3 linked regions of the Homo sapiens genome follow. The protein of the gene in region 1 interacts with the protein of each later gene in a pairwise test. Each region holds a gene or a part of one and is shown in the gene's direction. Other genes may lie near its edges.

Region 1 (7,032 bases):
TGTGTGCCTGGCTATCATCTATGTATAGTGTGCATAAAATGGACAGATTTTGCTGTTCAAAGGTATTTTTTTTTTCATTTCCTGTTTTTGGACTGTGTTTCAGATAGACAAGGTTGCCAGAGGAGTTTTCTGATTGGGTGAAATATTACAGTATTTCAAAGAAACATAAAAGAAATAATTCATATTTGTCCAGTAAAACAAAATGCAGTGCTATCATCATGTATTTGTTCTCTGTCTTACTAAAAATTTGGGTGGAGATGGGGATGTTTATGTGAACATCTTGAATTTTTTGGAAAACATTTGCTTTATATAAGTACAAAATACTGCAATTGAACAAATGTAACTGGCAAATTGAACAAATACCTCCTGTGCTTTGTTGTGGGAAAATCAGTGAAGGTACTTCACATTGAGAAAATAAGACAGGAAACACTACCAGACAGATAAAGACACAGCAGATACTGAGTAGCCTGGGAGTCTTTCTTGGAGAGATCAGTATAGATCAGAAAGTTGAGGAAAGCTTCATGGGAAGCTTGAGATTTGATGAATGATTTGTAAAAAATAAATAATAATTGGATAAGCAAAGAAGAGTGGGATACCTTTCTAGACTGGTGGAATTAACATAGGTAATAATATACGATTTAGAAGGAGCAGTAAGTGAAAAGTAATAGACTGGTCAACCAAGTCACAGTTCATGCTTTTTCCCATCCCATCTTCCTCATCTGTAACTTAGAATTCATAATATTTACCTTTGGAAGTTTGTGGTAGAGAGCAAAGGAGGTAATAGAACAAGTGTTTGCAAAACCATAAAGTGTACTTCAATTTTGTAAGATGGTACATTGCTTTTATTAGTAGTAGAAAATGGAGTAGATCACGTAAGACTAAGCTTTGGAAAATCAATGGTAAATAGTTGGTACTAGAGACCTATAGTAAGTTTTTTGAGCAGACGAACAGTGGTATTTCATAGTAGTCTGGCTAGACTGGTTTCAAATGGGGAATGGAATCTAGAAAGTCTCATGTATCACCTAATTATTATAGCTATAGTGTTAAGTTTTAAATTATTATAAACATTTCTAATATTTTCTTGATTATCCAACTTTGTGGAATTATGCTTATTAAATGCTTATTAAAAATATTTTTCTTTTTTTCCTAACAGTTTGATAAAGGGAGACCCAGCAGCATCTTTGCCCATCATCAGCTATTCTTTTACCTCATACTCACCTTATGTAACAGAACTTATAATGGAATCCAATGTAGAGCTCATAGCAAAAAATGACTTGCGCTTTATAGATGCTGTCTATAAGGTATTTTGAGTTTATCAAACAATAACTATTAGTTATTGAATGATTTTTAAAAATTAATGATTTAGTCATAACTTCTTAAATATATGCAGCATATACAATTGACAGGATATTTTCATTTGTATTTATCTCATTTAAATGTAGTCTCTATTGAAATCAAGATGCAATTCATGTTTGCTTTTTGAATGTTACCTATTCTAATAAATACAGCAACTGGTAAATATTTGTTGTTGGCTATTGTTTGCCCTTTTTAATCAAATTTTAGTAAAATTTGATATACTGGCAGAAATTAGAGAGTAATGTAATTATATTCAATAAAACTTACAGTTTTTTAGAATTATATGTTAATTTAGTTGTTTGTAAGAAGGAACTATTACTGACATTTTTTTTTTATTAAACTGATATATTCTTTGAGGTCTGAGAGCATGTCTTATATTGTATCTACCCTAGTATTTATACTTGTACTATGTGTATACTGAATTTAATCTCTTATTTGATTTTTTTAAAACCCTGCTTTTATCATTAATTTTTGCTTAAGTACTGTGGTTTGTATTAAAGTTAGTTTTTAATGGTAAAAACCCACTTATCAAATGTAGTCTATTTTTTTTTTTTTTTTGAGACAGAGTCTTGCTCTGTCACCAGGCTGGAGTGCAGTGTCACGATCTAGGCTCACTGCAGTCTCCGCCTCCTGGGTTCAAGCAGTTCCCCTGCCTCAACCTCCTGAGTAGCTGGGACTACAGGCGTGCACCGTGACCACGCCTGGCTAATTTTTTGTATTTTAGTAGAGAGGGTTTCACCATGTTGGCCAGGATGGTCTCGATCTCCTGACCTTGTGCTCTGCCCACCTTGGCCTCCCAAAGTGCTGGCATTACAGGCATGAGCCACCGCACCCAGCCTCAAATAGTCTTTTAAAAAAAGCAGAGTTGCAGTCAATGAAATGGGAGCTTTTATATGTAGTCTCTGTTTAATCTTTCTCTTTCTTGCTTTTGATCCCAGAAGACATCCATGGAAGCCTAAGAGGCACTTTTAAGAAATTCTAGAGCTCCACAGAGTAGATTTAGGAAACTACTGATCTAGTGTGTTTTTTTTCATTTTACAAATGAAAAATTGAGACCAAAAGGCCTACTGACGTATCCAAAAATCACATAGTGGAAGAGTTATAAACAAATAGAACTATAGTTTCTGACTCTGGTATGGTATTCTAGTGAACTAAGAAGTTTTTCTAATATCTCTGAAGATATTTACACTTTTTGATGATTGACTATATTTTTCCATCTCTCTGGACAGACATCTGTTCTCCAGCATATCCTTTGCTACCTGTTTTCCACCTGATACCTGTCTTACTGGATCATGACTTAACACCAGCCCTATGAATTACTTTAGTACTCTTTAGTTAATGGCTTGGTTTTCCTTGTCCTCTCAAAGGTGGCCATTATTCCCCTGACCAGGTGGGCATTATCATTTGGAATTTTAGAAATAAATTGCTCCCAATTATTACAAGAGTCTGTTTCCTCTGCAGCTTCTTCGTGATCAATTTAATTATAAACCAATTTTGACAAAAAAGCAGTTTATCCAATGTGGGTTTGCAGAATGGAAAATCCAAATTGTTTGTGATATTTTGAATTGTGTGATGAAAAAGCACAAGGAATTAAGCAGTCTTCAGAAGGTAATTTTATGAATAGATATTAATGCTGATGTATGCTATTAATAGATGGCTCAGTATTTTAATGTATAAAATCAAAACCCTAGACAGCAAATTATTTCATAGTGTAATTACTGTATTATTCAAAGATTTGAGTAACCTTATAAAGCTTGTTGTTTATTTTAAATACTACTCTCTTGTTTTATACACCTGTGACTGGGAACTCCTAGTGTTAAACTAATAGTTCAAACATAATACATTTTCATTACTTCTTAGTTTTTAAAAGTCATGTAGTCTCATTAGAGTCTCATTATTTGTCAGCTATATTTCATATATGAAAATTTAAATGTTAATGGAATTTTAATATATAATTATGCTTTCACACAAAATTTGTTATTTTGACTAATACCTTTTTTTTTAGATTCCATCACAACAAAGAAAGAAAATCAGTTCTGGTAAGTCAGAACCTCCTTTGGGCAATGAGAAAATATCTGCAGAGGCTGTTGGCGTTGATATCAGTGGCAGGTTTATGACCTCAGGAAAGGTATGCAACCACAAAGAAAATATCATATTGTTTAAGAGTTATCTAATTAATCCAATATACAGTTTTCACTTTTCTGATTGGCACCTGATGAACATTCTAGTTAGATATTGGAGTTCATTGATTTTTAACAGTGCATGCCATATATTTTTGGGCAGTATGCCTGAAGTTATAACAATAGGATAGAAATATAAAATTAAATACGTGTTCTCTTTATATTTCTAATTTCTAATTCTGCCGGATTTCCTAAACAGAAGAGTAGTGATTTAGGAAGATTATCTTATGCAGTTATCTACATTTGCTCTTAATTGTGTTCTGGTCTTCCTAAAACATGGGAACATATGAAGAGCCTACATTAGCAGTAGTGATAGGTTATAATGATTCATTTATGTACATTATATTTCTGTAACCAAGTATGAATTATCCAATAATTGGTAGTCCCTACACGTAGAATCTGGTTTTCAGTTAATATTTTGAATATTTTCTCTTTCTTGAAAGATAATTTTTCTGCCATTATCTGCTTTGAGCAGCTGTGGCAAATTGAATCTAATGCACTTAGAGCTACAGTGTTTCTATCACTAAGGGAGACTTAAGCTAAAATATTATTTATTAATATATTTTCAGCTGTCTTCCAGCTGGAGAAGACTCTGATTGAATGATAGAATATCAGATGAATTATCAATGGTGTAATTAAGTAAAGGATGTGAATACTTTCTGACTGAAGTATAATCTAGAGTATTATTTCTGCCCTAATCCAAAATACATGAGTTATGTAAACAGAATCTATTTTAAAAATTTATTCTTGGGTCTAGCACAGTAGCTCATGCCTGTAATCCCAGCACTTTGGGAGGCCAAGGCAGGTGGATCACCTAAAGTCAGGAGTTTGAGACCAGCCTGACCAGCATGGCGAAACCCCATTTCTACTAAAAATACAAAAATTAGCTAGGCGTGGTAGCTGGTGCCTGTAACCCCAGCTACTTGAGAGACTGAGGCAGGAGAATCGCTTGAACCCTGGAGGCAGAGGTTCCAGTGAGCCGAGATTGTACTACTGCAGTCCAGGCTGGCTGACAGAGCGAGACTCCATCTCAAAAAAATATGTTTATTCCTTTATACCTTAAAAAAGTGAAATTTTATTATAAGAAAATGTTCTTATGCCACTTCTTTTTAATGTACCTGTTTTGCTCTAGGTAATGAAGACAATATAAAGAATGATACAAAGCCGCCATTTTTGAATAAGTGCATGTAGTTTTTGTACACTTGCATCTCTAACTCATCTAACTCTTGTTAGTTTTATTTATGATTTTCTAACTGTTAAATGACTTATATCTTGTATTCTTCCCCAACTAGAAGGAACATATATGAACAGGGATTTTCTTATACTGATTTTTTGTACCTTCATTTTGCTTAGCACAGGATTAGGAACACTGTGAGCACTTATTAATTATTTATTGATATAATGTGCTTTTCAATGTTCTATTTCAGTATGAGAGTTGAGGGGACAGTGTAAATTGTCCTAGCCAAGAAAAATGTAAACTTCAAAACATTAGACTTATTTTTAATTTTCTTAAAGCAAAGTTTTCTTTGTTATCTATTAAAATTTATACCAGATCTTTATCAGAAATTTGAATAAGTATTAAAAGTTCTCAGATTTAGAAAAGAGTCTACAAGTACATTTCTTTGTTTACAAGCAAAAGTTGAGTCAATATTAAAGCAAATTGTCTCCTATCCCAGTGCCTTATATAGTATGCCTATTTGCGCTTCTGAGTCACATATGTTTTTATAGTGTGTATGCAAACTGTAGAATAGGAAGCAGGTAGAGGATTTCTAGGTAAATGCATACCGTGACCTAATGCTTTTTTTGTCAGGACTTCTTCGTTGTCATTATTAGGTTTGAATTGTTAGCTGAAGGTCTAATAAATTGCAGTTTGTTTAACAGAAAAATTGTAATGAGCCCTACTCATAGAGCCAGTTTTTGATTATTTATAAGTGAATTATTTGGCAATCTTTTTTAAAAATAACTTTTTATTATGGAACATTTCAAACATTTACAAACATACCCATCATCCAGTTTCAGCAATTTATCAACTCTTTGCTAATCTTGTTTTGTCTTTATTTTAAATCAAATCTCAGACATAATTTAATAAATATTTCAGCGCTTGTCCTAAAATGTAAGAATTGTTTTAAAAGTCATAACCCCAATTTTATCATCACACATAAATTATTGGTAATGTTAGTAATGGTAATATTTTGATATATATATTATATGTGATAATTTAAACTTTTTTTAATTTTTAAAGATTGGTGTTCCTTTTGCAAAATTGCTGTATGTTTAAAATAATTGTAGGAGGATCTTCTCAGCCCAAAAGCTTCTTAAGCTGATAAGCAACTTCAGCAAAGTCTTGAGATACAAAATCAATGTGCAAAAATTGCTAGCAATCTTATCTACCAACAACAGTCAAGCTGAGAACCAAATCACAAACAAACTCCCATTCAAAATTGCCACAAAAAGAATAAAATACCTAGGAATCTAGCTAACAAGGGAGGCAAAAGATCTCTACAAGCAAAACTATAAACCATTGCTCAAAGAAATCAGAGATGACACAAACAAATGGAAAAACATTCCATGCTCATGGATAGGAAGAATCAATATTGTTAAAATGACTGTACTGCCCAAAGCAATTTATAGATTCAATGCTACTCCCATTAAACTACCATTGACAGTCTTCAGAGAACTAAAGAAAACTACTTTAAAATTTATATGAAACCAAAAAAGACCCAAATAGCCAAGGCAATCCTAAGGAGAAAGAACAAAGCTGGAGGGATCATGCTACCCAACTTCAAACTATACTACAGGGCTACAGTAACCAAAACATCATGGTACTAGTACCAGAACAGACACATAGACCAATGGAAGAGAATAGAGAACCCAGAAATAAGACCACACACCTGCAACTATCAGATCTTCAACAAACCTGATGAAAACAAGCAATGGGGAAAGGATTCCCTAGTCAGTAAATGGTGCTTTGATAACTGGGTAGCCATATGCAGAAGATTGAAACTAGACCCTTTCCTTACACCATACACAAAAATCAACTCAAGATGGATTAGAGACTTAAATGTAAAACCCAAAACTATAAAAACCCTGGAAGACAACCTAGGCAGTACCATTCAGGACATAGGTGTCGGCAATGATTTCATGACGAAGACGCCAAAGGCAATTCCAACAAAAGCAAAAGTTGATAAATGGGATCTAATTGAACTAAAGAGCTTCTACACAGCAAAAGAAACTATCAGCAAAGTAAACAGACACCCTCCGGAGTGGGAGAAAATTTTTGCAAACTTGTATCTGACAAAGGCCTAATATCTAGCATCCATAAAGAACTTAAACAAATTTACAAGAAAAAAACAACCTAATTAAAAAGTGGACAAAGGATATGAACATCTACTTCTGAAGAGAAGGTATACATGCAGCCAATAATCACATGAAAAAAACTCAACATCACTGATCATTAGAAAAATGCAAATCATAACCACAATGAGATACCATGTCA
Region 2 (5,738 bases), on another chromosome or scaffold:
CTTTTTGTTGCCAGTGACATCACTGTCATCATCTGAGGTTTTTTGTTACAGGTGAGACACTTTGACAGCCCCTACCTGTTGTACCACGAGAAGATAAAAACTAGTCGAGTATTCATCCGAGACTGCAGCATGGTGTCTGTGTACCCGCTGGTCTTGTTTGGAGGAGGCCAAGTGAATGTGCAGCTTCAAAGAGGAGAGTTCGTTGTCTCCCTGGATGATGGTTGGATCCGTTTTGTAGCTGCTTCCCATCAGGTAAAGGCAGAATTGGTCTGTTTTATGAGGCTCAGGCCATGAGGGGCTTTGACAATATGAAGTTATGAAGTCAAGGGCATTCCTCTAGGGACCAAGGTAACAGAGCTAATTAAAAATGAATGACGGTGGCCGAGCCCAGTGGCTCACACCTATAATCCCAGCACTTTGGGAGGCCGAGGCAGGCAGATCATCTGGGGCCAGGAGTTCGAGACCAGCCTGGCCAACATGGTCAAACCCCGTCTCTACTAATAATACAAAAATTAGCTGGGCATGTTGGTGGGTGCCTGTAATCCCAGCTACTCAGGACGCTGAGACATGAGAATCGCTTGAACCTAGGGGGCAGAGGTTGCAGTGAGCCGAGATCGTGCCATTGCACTCCAGCCTCGGCAACAGAGCGAGATTCCTTCTCAAAAAAAAAAAAAAAAAGTGAATGATGGTCTACAATGAGACACTAAGAAAGAGTGAGGCTGAAGTGAAGCCAGGAGTGGAGCCCTAGTAAGAGTTCCAGAAAGCACACTGTGAGGGGAAGTCTGGTACGGGCTGAGGTTAGTATAAAAGGCTAGGACAGAAGCTGTAAAGTGAGGGTGCTGGACCTTCCTTATTGTTATATAAATAATAGATGTTCACCAAAGAAAAGTCAGAAAATACAGATAAGCAAAAATAAGTAAATAAAAACCACCCTGATTCCACCACTACCATTTTGAGAAAAAGATAATGGGTCTGAATTCTTCATTTATTCTCAGGTCTCAATTATTCCCTATATGGAGTCTCTGTGAAAAACATATCATGGAGAGTACATATTTAAGAAACAGAACTTCACCCAGGTGCGGTGGCTTACGCCTGTAATCCCAGCACTTTGGGAGGCCAAGGTGGGCAGATCACCTGAGGTCAGGAGTTCGAGACCAGCCTGGCCAATATGGTGAAACCCCATCTCTACTAAAAATTTTAAAAAATTAACCAGGTGTGGTAGTGGGCGTCTGTAATCCCAGCTATTCAGGATGCTGAGGCAGGAGAATCTCTTGAGCCCAGGAGGCGGAGGTTGCAGTGAGCCGAGATTGCGCCATTGCACTCCAGCCTGAGCAACAAGAGGGAAACTCCATCTCAAAAAAATGAATATATAAAAATACAAAAAAAAAAATTAGCTGGGCGTGGTGGCGGGCGCCTGTAATCCCAGCTACTCAGGAGGCTGAGACAGGAGAATCACTTGAACCCAGGAGGCAGAGGTTGCAGTGAGCCGAGATTGCACCACTGCACTTCAGCCTGGGTGACAGAATGAGACTCCGTCTCAAATAAATAAATAAATAGATAGATAGATAAAACTTCAGGTGGACACCCGTAATCCCAACTGCCAGAGGCTGAGGTGGGAGGATTGCTCAAGCCCAAGAGGTCGAGGCTTCAGTGAGCCATGATTGCACCACTGCACTCCAGCCTGGGTGACAGAGTGAGACTCTGTCCCAAAAAAAGAAATAAATAAAATTTCATTTTAATATCTGCATCTGTTAGAATTCTTATGTTACAAGAAGCAGATATGCCAACTCAAACATTAAAAGAAATTGATTGGCATATTTAACTTTAAAGTCCAGAGCAGCAGTGTCCAACAGAAATATAATGTGACCCACATATGTAATTTTAATTGTTCTAGTAGCCACATTTTTAAAAGTAAAAAGAAATAGATGAAATTAATCTTAATATATTTTATTTAACCTAATACATCCAAAATGTTTTAATTTTAACATGTAATCAATATAAAATTATTAAGATAGTTTACATTACCTTTTCATATTAAGTCTTCAAAATCGGGTATATATTTTATATTCGCAGCACATCTCAGTTTGGGCTGGCCACATTTCATATAGACATTAGATAAGCCACTTGTGACTAGTGGCTACCTTACTGGATAGTCCAGGTCAAGAAGGCCAGGCAACGTTGGTTTGATTTAGCAGTTCAGTGGTGACAAAAACGTGGTTAACCTAGTGGTATCGAAAGGGCTGCAATAGCTCCTGGCATCACATGTATGCAGCATATGGTCCAGAAGAAGAGCCAGAAACTTTCTTGCCTACAAGCTCAATCAAAGCTCCCCTCCTAAACCAATCCCTGTGACCAAAGGGATGTCCTGAACTTGAATACCTGGAGTACCTGAGCCATTCACCCTGGCAGGGCTCACAGTGTGAACCTGTGTTAGAGCAGGGTCCGAACTGTATGTTTCCCATACAGTGGGGAAGGGGCAAAACAGATGCTGGGAAGATGTCTACAGTGCCACAACATCAGCATAAGCAAAATGCCATAAAGCATACAGTATATCCCAAAGCTACAGAGATTTTTGATTCATCTAATATCTTCCACTTATTTATTTTTTTTTTTGAGGTGGAGTCTTGCTCTGTCACCCAGGCTGGAGTGCAGTGGCGCAATCTCGGTTCACTGCAACCTCCGCCTCCCGGGTTCAAGCAATTCTCCTGCCTCAGCATCCTGAGTAGCTGGGACTGCAGGCGTACACCACCAAGCCCGGCTATTTTTTTTTTTTTTTTTTTTGAGATGGAGTTTCGCTCTTGTTGCCCAGGCTGAAGTGCCATGGTGCCATCTCGGCTCACCACAGCCTCTGCCTCCCGTGTTCAAGCGATTCTCCTGCCTCACCCTCCCAAGTAGCTGGGATTACAGGCATACGCCACCACCCGGCTAATTTTGTATTTTTAGTAGAGACGGGGTTTCTCCATGTTGGTCAGCCTGGTCTTGAACTCCCGACCTCAGGTGATCTGCCCGCCTTGGCCTCCCAAAGTGCTGGGATTACAGGCATGAGCCACCGCGCCAGGCTAATTTTTGTATTTTTATTAGAGACGGAGTTTCACCATTTGGACAGGCTGATCTCAAACTCCTGACCTTGTGATCCGCCCACCTCGGCCTCCCAAAGTGCTGGGATTACAGGCGTGAGCCACTGAGCCTGGCCCACTTTTTTTTTTTTTTTTTTTTGAGATGGAGTTTTGCTCTTGTTGCCCAGGCTGGAGTGCAATGGCGCGATCTCGGCTCACCACAACCTCTGCCTCCTGGGTTCAAGCAATTCTCCTGCCTCAGCCTCCCGAGTAGCTGGGATTACAGGCATGTGCCACCATGCCTGGCTAATTTTGTATTTTTAGTAGAGATGGGGTTTCTCCATGTTGGTCAAGCTGGTCTCGAACTTCCACCTCAGGTGATCCGCCCACCTCAGTCTCCCAAAGTGCTGGAATTACAAGCGTGAGCCACCCGGCCCAGCCTATCTACCACCCTTTTTTTTTTTTTTTTTTTTGAGACAACAAGGTCTGCAGTGGAGTGATCGGTGATCAGTAAATTTTCTTTTCCTTTTTTTTTCTTTTTTTTGAAACGGAGTTTCGCTCTTGTTGCCCAGGCTAGAGTGCAATGGCGCAATCTTGGCTCACCGCAACCTCCACCTCCCAGGTTCAAGCGATTCTCCTGCCTTAGCCTCCCAAGTAGCTGGAATTATAGGCATGCACCACCATCCCAGCTAATTTTGTACTTTTAGTACTAAGAGACGGGGTTTCTCCACATTGGTCAGGCTGGTCTCGAACCCCTGACCTCAGGTGATCTGCCCATCTCGGCCTCCCAAAGTGCTGGGATTACAGGCGTGAGCCACCGGGCCCGGCCCTCTCTACCACTTTTAATTCCCCATTTTCCTGCTTCTCCTCGTGGAATAAATCATAAAAATTGACCAAACTTTAATATGGAGAACACTATATAAAAGCCATACTTCCAGACTGAATCTTTTCTTTTTTGGGGAGCAGGGGGGACAGAGTCTCGCTATGTCACCCAGGCTGGAGTGCAATGGCGCGATCTCAGCTCACTGCAACCTCCACCTCCTGGGTTCAAGCCATTCTCCTGCCTCAGCCTCTGAGTAGCTGGGATTACAGGCGCATGCCACCACAACTCGCTAATTTTTGTATTTCTAGTAGAGACAGGATTTCACCATGTTGGCCAGCCTGGTCTTGAACTCCTGATCTCATGATCCGCCCGCCTTGGCCTCCCAAAGTGCTGGGATTACAGGCGTGAGCCACTGCGCCTGGCCCGAATCTTTTCTTTAGATGAGATGTGATAGAGGCACTTTTTTACAATGGACCTCATTTAGTCTATTACAAAATGAAAATGTATTTAGGGTTTTTGCTCCTAATGGAGTTAAAATTAGTACCAGAAATCTAAATAATGGTAATCATAACTTGGGTATTTCCCTCCAATAACCTATCCTGCCTGTTCCTCCAAGCACTGCTTATATTGTAGCTTTCATTTTAGGTGGCTGAACTGGTAAAGGAGCTTCGTTGCGAACTTGATCAGCTTCTCCAGGATAAAATTAAAAACCCAAGCATTGATCTGTGTACGTGTCCTCGAGGATCCCGGATCATCAGCACAATTGTGAAACTTGTCACCACACAATAAAAAGCAGTCTTAGAGAGTGCTTGCTACTCACCTGCTTCTAGCTCACCTGGGAAATAACAGCAGAACCTCTACCTCGAACTAAAGACCTATTGGGGCTGGCCCTGGTGGAGGAGCCCAGGGCATGAAGCCCAAGGCAGCTGAGGCAGTGTATATACCCTTAGGGCCATTTCTAACAAAGCCTTGGCCACTCCCAGCACAATTTGGAGTGTCAAGGGTGAGAGCCTAAAACCCAGCTTGCCTGTCTTTGTCTCTGTGATTGTTCTGGAGTGAATTAAGTTCACCTGATAACTCAAAAGTGAATGTATAATACAATTCTGTTTTAATCTGTGTATTCTTTTTCTCCTACTTTTTACTGGGGTGAGAGGGGCATGAAGAGAAATACGCCTTTTTTTTTTTTCTTTTCCTGTCGCCAAGGCTCGACTGAGAGAAGTCAGAACAGAGAAGGGGAAAAAAAACCCAAAATTATGTGAACAAGCAAAATTAAAATTTCATTTTAGGCTATTGGCTACTGAGTAAACTTGACTTGTGAGGGGTTTTTATTTTTACTCATTAAAAGTCAACTTAAAAAAATTGAATGAGTTCTCTTTTGGTATTAAAGTGCAAGCTGGTCTTATCGATAACACTCCTATTCTTAAAAGCAGAACAATCTAGATGTCGTCATAGTTCTACATTTAGGAATCTTTACTCTGTCTTATCAACTCACCCAGACACGAATCACCGAAGGAGAATTTTAATAGCATTCCTGGGGCAGAGTTGGCATGGATGAGGTCAAAAAGGTTACCATCGGATTTACAGCCACCACAATGCTTTCCATGAAATTGCTTATTTTCAACCACCTGTTAGGTTAATGGGGCGCTAGCATTTTGGAAAAACATCAGGGGATTTACATTTTCCCTGGACATCTATCAGTATGGCGAGGAAGGATCCCAAATTGCTGAGTAGAAAAAATATTTGTATGTTTGTTTAGACCTCAGGGCCGGACGCGGTGGCTCATGCCTGTAATCCTAGCACTTTAGGAGGCCGAGGCAGGCCAATCACATGAGGTCAGAAGTTCAAGACCAGCTTGGGCA
Region 3 (7,032 bases), on another chromosome or scaffold:
TCCATAATTGAGAAATGCTCCTGATTTTTTCAGTGAATCTGGCCTCGTGGAGCTGCAGGAGGCCCCCACCAGGCCCCCACCCCTTTCCAGGCCTAGAGGAAAGGCCACCTCCCAGCCCAGTCCTTCCACAACACGCTGCCTTCATCTCACTTGGGGTCAGAGGCAGCCACTCTGCGGTCCTGGGCCCCAGAAATCCAGAGCTCTCTCCCTCTGCCCTCACTTAGGCCACTCTGGCTGGGGCTTCATGCCCACCTTTCCAGACTCTGGGCTCTGGTGTTCCGTGCTCCTCACAGCACTCCTTACCCCTCCTGTTTCTCCACCTGCAGCTGCCTCTTCCCCCCCTTGTCCACAGAACTCCTCCTGGTCCTGCAGCTCAGTTCCATGGCAACCCTCTGTGACTCCTCAGGGCCCATGCAGGGCCTGAGGCCTCAGAGCAAGCTCTCAGCAACTGAGCCCCAAGTTGGCACCTAGAGAGAAATTCGACCTCCTTAGCCTGGGCCCCAAACAGAGAATCCAAGAGAGACCTCAGTCACTCAATAGCACGGTGGGGATGTCCATTTTGGTGGCACTTTCTTGGATCAGGCTGGAGCAAGCAGTGGGGAAGGTCAGAGCAGGCAACAATTTCCATAAATGTTTGGGAAACAACATTTCCTCTTGCTTTCAGAGGGGGAGAAGAGTTGGAAAGGAGACAGGCTCTCCTCCCTGCCATCACCACCCCAGCTAGCACAGAAAGCTCCTGGGGCCATTCTGGGGAGTGGGGGTCCCCTGTCCCCTGGAATCTCCCCACAGCCTGTCTCACCCCCACCCAGAGGAGACAAAGACAGGTTTTCAGAAAAGCCAGGAAGAGGAGCCAGGAGGAGGGAAACAATTGCTGTCACTGTGCAGAGAGTCACATCATGGAAAGCAACACGAAACTAGGGTGCCAGGAGGGCTCACACCATGGCAGAATCAGGAAGGCCGTCCTGGGGAGGGGGGAATCTTCCTCATCCTTATATCACTATGTAAGTTTGGGGCCAGGGTTGGCTCCATGGGTGCACCACCAGTGAAGTCTCATAGGATGCTGCACTGGAGTGCAGCGATGCCATCAGAGATCACTGCAACCTCAAGCTCCTGGCCTCAAGAGATCCTCTTGCCTTGGCCTCCCAAAGGGCTTGGATTATAGGTATGAGGCACCGTGCCCAGCCAATAGTTTTATCTTTGAATTTGTGTTTTAAAAGTGAAGTCTTGTGGGACAATGGAGTATGGACCAGGGGCTCTTGAATGGTCCTACCTCCCTCTGTCTCCCTACAACAGGTTCTTGGCCCACCTCTCTGCCCCTGGGAGCCCCTTCTGACACCTGCTCCAAGCCCCTGGGTGGCAGCAACTGGAGGGAGAGGACAAGCCTCTTGCTCACCCCCAACCCAGGTACCTACAGGTGGCACTGAGGTCGTAATATTCTTGGGGGTTATCACCCCACCCCACCAGCAGGACATGGTACATCGGTCCAATGGCCGGTAAGAAAGGTACCGCAGCCATTGGTGGGGTATGCACATGCCCAGAATCATGGAGCGAGGCCTCTGGATGCCTATAAAGGTCTGCATGAGCATCCCCATTCCCCAGGGAGTGGAAATTAAATAGCAGATAAAAATTACCATAACAAGTTGAAACATGACAGAAGAAAGGAAAAAGCATTATATTTGAGTAACTTAAATCGCACTTTGTTCCTGCTCTTTGAACATGGGGCCCCACATTTTGCACTGGGATCCGCAAATTATATAGCTGGTCCTAGTTAGGGTTCATGCATATGAAGTTCTGTTTCAATTCCAAACCTCTCTCCTCCCACTCCTCAGCTGTGTTAGAACCTCCAAGCCTCGCTAAGTGGTGAAAACGGACAGAAAAACCCCAGGTGGCAACTACAGAGGCTGAGGAAGACCTGGGCCATTTCCCTCTCCAGCCTTGCTCTGTGCTCCTGACTTTTCTTACCAAATGAACGATGCTGACAATAGGCTCTGATGGCAACATCAGGCCCTTTCATCCTCAAATAGGCCAAACACAAGCTTGGAATAAGGCAGCCTTGTGCCTCGGAGCTGCAGATGAAAGGAGAGTGGGGTCAGAGGAGCAGCCCTCAGAGACCAGGTGTCAAAACAAAAGGAACAGCTGAAGCCAGGGGGAGAATGAAGCTGCCTGAGGAAGAAAGGGGAGCGCAGAGGTTCTAAATTAAGGAGCCAGGACATTTGTCTAGGTCTCCATGGGAGAAAACTGCAGCTTATACCTCCAAAGGATAAGGCTGTCAGCTGGAGAAAATGGGAAATCAAAATTGTTGAAAGGCAAAGGATTAGAGTTTAAAATGGACCTGATTTGACTATTTTTCCTGCTGTTCACAGCCCGTCTTTCTGTCCCTTGCACAGAGACAGCCCATACTCAGGGAATCTGCCTACTTGAAGAACATGCTGGAAACTCAGGCAATCCAGATCTGGGCCAGGTTTCTCCCACAGAACTTGTGGTCCTAGAAGGCTCTCTTTTTAGAAAAAAAAAACAAGAACTAATCCTTCTCCACTGAGAATAAATAAAGGCAACAGGGTTTGTTGTTCATGATTTACAACCTGGTATCCCTGGAAAGTAGGTGATGGGGGCAGAATCATAATCTGCAAAGGCCTGAACACATTTCCCCAAGAAAAAGTCACTCAGCCTGTTTCTTAATCAGTGCAATTTGTTTGGTCAGAGCAGGCCAGTGGGGCGGTTTCTTTGTCAGCCAAGCTATAAGGGACACTACAGTATGGTTAGAAATGTAGCTACCAGAGAAAAGTCCGTTAGAGAGATTCATTCCTCTTAGGAAGAGTGAGGTATATGATTGGAAGAAATATTTTGATGGGAGAGGGGGAGAAGGAGGCATGAGCCTGCTTCCCAAGGGTCTTGTTCATATAATACAGGTGGCCACTAAGCCTCTTTATTTATTTTTATTTATTTATTTTTTGATATGGAGTCTCACTCTGTTGCCCAGGTTGTGGCGCAATCTCGGCTCACTGCAACCTCCGCCTCCCGGGTTTAAGCGATTCTCCTGCCTCAGCCTCCCAAGTAGCTGGGATTACAGGTGCCCACCACCATATCCAGCTATTTTTTTTTTTTTTGTATTTTTAGTAGAGACAGGGTTTCACCATGTTGGCCAGGCTGGTCTCAAACTCCTGACCTCAGGTGATCCACCAGCCTTGGCCTGCCAAAGTATTGGGATCACAGGCGTGAGCCACCGTGCCCAGCCAGTCACTAAGCTGCTTTCTAAGAAAGGTGGTTTCTGGAAGTTGAATGTGTCTGGAAAGCAAGAGAACTGCTAAAGAAAACAGAGGGAGACTAGGGTGTGGCACTCAGGGCCTCTTTCCATGCCCCTCTCATACACCACACTCGGCCACTCTTAAACCTCTTAAGATCTCTTAAAATGTGAGTTCCATGTTGGGAAATGGAAGACAGGGGGTGGGGTCAGTTTTCCATGAAAACTAGGGAAAATTAGATGTGATGCAAAGACTGGGGATTTTGAAGCCAGACAGCCCCTAGCCTTGCCGCTTGCCATCTACCAACCGTGTGATCTTGAGCCAAGGTCTTCATTGATCTCTGCATCTCAGTTTCTCATCTGAATAATGAGGATGATTAGAGACTTCCTTTGACATGATAAAATATCTCTAAGAAGGAAACACTAGGCCTTCCACAGAAATTAAGAATGAGAAAAAGATGCCCGCTCTCTCTCGTTGGTTAGAGGCAGTAGTCAATATGATTAGACAAGAGAAAGTACTTGGTATAAGAATTGGAAAGAAAGAGGGAAAAATTTGGTCTTTCTGGAAATCCCAGAAGGAACAATGTAAAAACTATACGACAAAAAATAAGATGATTTAGTGAAGTAGCACGTTATAAAATAACATCAAAAAGCAATGCTGAGGCTGGGCATGTGGGCAAATGCCTGTAATCCAAGTACATTGTGAGGCCAAGGCAGAAGGATCACTTGAGCCTGGGAGGTTGAGGCTGCAGTGAGCCATGATTCTACAACTGCACTCCAGCCTGGGTGACAGAGCAAGACCCTGTCTCTAAAAGAAAAATAAATAAATAAATGCTGCTGGGCATGGTGGTACAAACCTGTAGTCCCAGGTATTCAAGAGGGTGAAGCAGGGGGATTGCTTGAGCCCAGGAGTTCAAGACCAGCCTGGGCAACAAAGCAAGGGCCATCTCAAAACAAATAACAAACAATGCTATTTATATATAAACAAAAAGATAAAAGAGATGAGAAAATCTTATTTATGATAGCGTAAGATGAATCACCTCTAAACTTCAGAAATGTCCAAAGTCTATATTAGACAACAATCAAATCTATCTGAAACACACAAAATAGTCTTGAACAAATGGAAAGAAACACCATGCACTCAAATAGACTCAATAGCATAAAGATGTCTCTTCTCCCTAAGTTAATGTATCAATTTAATGCAATCCTAATTTTTAAAATTCCATTTTTTTTTCTAGAGTTAGATGAGTTGATTTTAAATTCCCTTTGTAAGAACAGAAAGACAAGAATGGCCAGGAAAGAAAAACTAAGAAAGAGTGGAGGGGAGGAGGCTGGGGAGGGGACCAGCAGCCCCGCCAGACATTAACATATTATAAAGTCTCTGTAATTAAAATAGTTTAGCGTTGGCACAAAAAAGATGAGAAAACCATGGAACAGAATAGAACATTCTATAGTAAGCTCTACTGTGTTTGGAAATTGAGTATTGATGAAGGCAGCATTTGAAACCAATAGAGGGAAGGATGGACTTTTTAATAAGTGATATTCAGACAACTAGATAGTCATAAGGAAAATAATAAAATTAGATCCATTTCTTGCTGTACCCTAGGGTCAGTTCTAAATGTATCCTAGATATAAAATCAAAAATGAAACCATACAAGTAGAAAACATAGGTGAATTCCTTTATAACTTGGATGTGGGAAAAATTTTTCTTGTTACAATTCAAAATACAAAAGCAACAAAGGAAAATATTGATAAATTTGATTAAGAAAAATTTTAAAATGTTGCATTTCAAAATATCACCATAAGCAAAATTAAAAGATAAATGACAAACTAGAAAAAAAAATGCAATGTAGGATACAAAAGGTTAAAATAGCCCTATTTTATACACAGCATTTAAAATTTGAGGTTAAAAAAAGCCGATAGCACTCTTTTATTTTTAAATGTTAGAGATATGAACAGACAGTTGACACAAAAAATAGATGAAAATGGCTCCTAATGTCTCAACTGCACTCATAATAAGAGAAATTTTTAAAATCTACCTGAGATACCACTTTTACCTATCCAATTAGCAAAACTCTAAAAGTATGTCAAACTATTTGTTGGTGAAGCTCTAGGGAAACAGGCAAGTTTATACAGTGTTGATGGGAATAGAAAATGTTACAACCCCTATGGAGAAAAATTTGGCAACATCTAGACAAATTATATAGGCATTTATGTATACATAATTTGACCCAGCAGTCCTGTTTCTAGGACACACTCCCAATGACACACTGGCAAAAATATGAACAAGAAGTATGTACAAAGCTGTTCACTGCAATCCTATCTGTAATACCAAAATACTGGAAAAATCCAAATACCTCCCAGGAGGGGACTCGTTGAATAAACCATGATGCATCTGCAAAGGAACAAGAAATCGCTCTATAGCTACTATGGAGTGATGATCTCCAGGATATGTTATTGAGCTAAAAGGCAAGATGGAAAGAGTGTGTATTTCATTCTACCATCTAGCTAAGAAAAGGGAAGGATATGAATATATACATACATATGTGTTTACATTGAAAAAATGGAATAAAACAAACCATAAGTATTTTTAAATGTTACTTATAGGAGGGTGGAGGGGAAAAAGTAGCAGGGAAAGGTAGGGCACTAGAGTTCTTCTAATTTATCTTGTTATGTGGAGATGACTTTGGAACCATGAAAATATTTTACAGAATTGTATAACAAAAATAGATTTCAGAAAGCCAATTCTAAGAATCAAAAATAAAAAGAAACAAATGAATCCAGCTATGTACCAAGTTGATAGCATAGTCACACGAAGAAGAACTATTCCAAGTGGCTTTTTAAACCACAGGAATTTAACTGTACATTCCTAGTGGAGATGCAAAAGACAACAGAAAAAAACCCAACAATTTTTCAGTAATCACATTGGTGGTGGTAGCACTGGCACTGTTATTCTGACACTGGTGTGTGTGTGTGTGTGTGTGTGTGTGTGTACTGTGGGACAGAGTAAGAGAGTAACTATATTTGTGTTATTGAAAACTGAGACTTGAATGTGAGTGAAAGGAGATACAGTTGTAAGATGCATGACGTTTAGTGACAATTCTTTAGTCTTGAATTTAAATCAGAATTATCAATATAAAGTCATGATATATGTGATCATGAAAATAAATATATGCCTATTTCCAAGTCTGACCACTGAAAAGATCTAGAAGCAATGGCCAACTTAGCGACAATGAACATTTTTAGCCTCAGATTTGGGTCTCTAACAACCATCTTTCACTAAAAGAATGGGGGGCTCCTTGTAGAAATGGCTGAATCCAGGTTCGAGGATAGGAAATATTCAAGACGAGTCTGAAACACCTTGTCATACCAGAAAGCAAGGACGCTATGAAAAACTACTACAGTCATGTCAGAAGACTTAGGAGTCAATTCAAAGAAGCTCCCACTAACCAAAGATGGTTGGGAATCAATAAGAATATTATCAGGGCTTCCAGTAAGGTGAACAAGAAGACATCCATGTGCTGGGAGGGTGGCTACCCCAACTCCATGGGGACAGAACTCCTGTGCTCAGGACTCTTCTACACCTCATGCTGTGGAATCTAAAGCAACAGCAAAGCTGAGGTCCAACTGCCATAAGGATGGACACCAAGGAGGCTGCACTGGGGAGAAAAAGAAGTCAAGATAAGCAACATGAACCATAAAGCCCGGACCGTGGCGGGTATGAAAGAACAAGAAAGGCGGGATCAGGAAATTCAACAGGACGAAGTTGCCTTCCCACCTAGCTCTCTTCT

What was found.
Region 2: the proteins of CEP44 (region 1) and DHX57 interact in binary tests that used the Homo sapiens proteins (3 or more experiments, as listed by UniProt).
Region 3: the proteins of CEP44 (region 1) and BFSP2 interact in binary tests that used the Homo sapiens proteins (3 or more experiments, as listed by UniProt).

Annotation. Positions count from the first base shown.
Region 1 is NC_000004.12:174,300,886-174,307,917, forward strand, and holds part of CEP44 (centrosomal protein of 44 kDa), read left to right. Parts: intron 1-1,153; coding exon 1,154-1,301; intron 1,302-2,817; coding exon 2,818-2,964; intron 2,965-3,361; coding exon 3,362-3,484; intron 3,485-7,032. UniProt on the Homo sapiens protein: Centriole-enriched microtubule-binding protein involved in centriole biogenesis. In collaboration with CEP295 and POC1B, is required for the centriole-to-centrosome conversion by ensuring the formation of bona fide centriole wall.
Region 2 is NC_000002.12:38,797,229-38,802,966, reverse strand, and holds the end of DHX57 (putative ATP-dependent RNA helicase DHX57), read left to right. Parts: intron 1-51; coding exon 52-252; intron 253-4,512; coding exon of another isoform or gene 4,513-4,524; coding exon 4,525-4,668; 3' UTR 4,669-5,238; downstream 5,239-5,738. UniProt on the Homo sapiens protein: Probable ATP-binding RNA helicase.
Region 3 is NC_000003.12:133,403,024-133,410,055, forward strand, and holds part of BFSP2 (phakinin), read left to right. Parts: intron 1-7,032.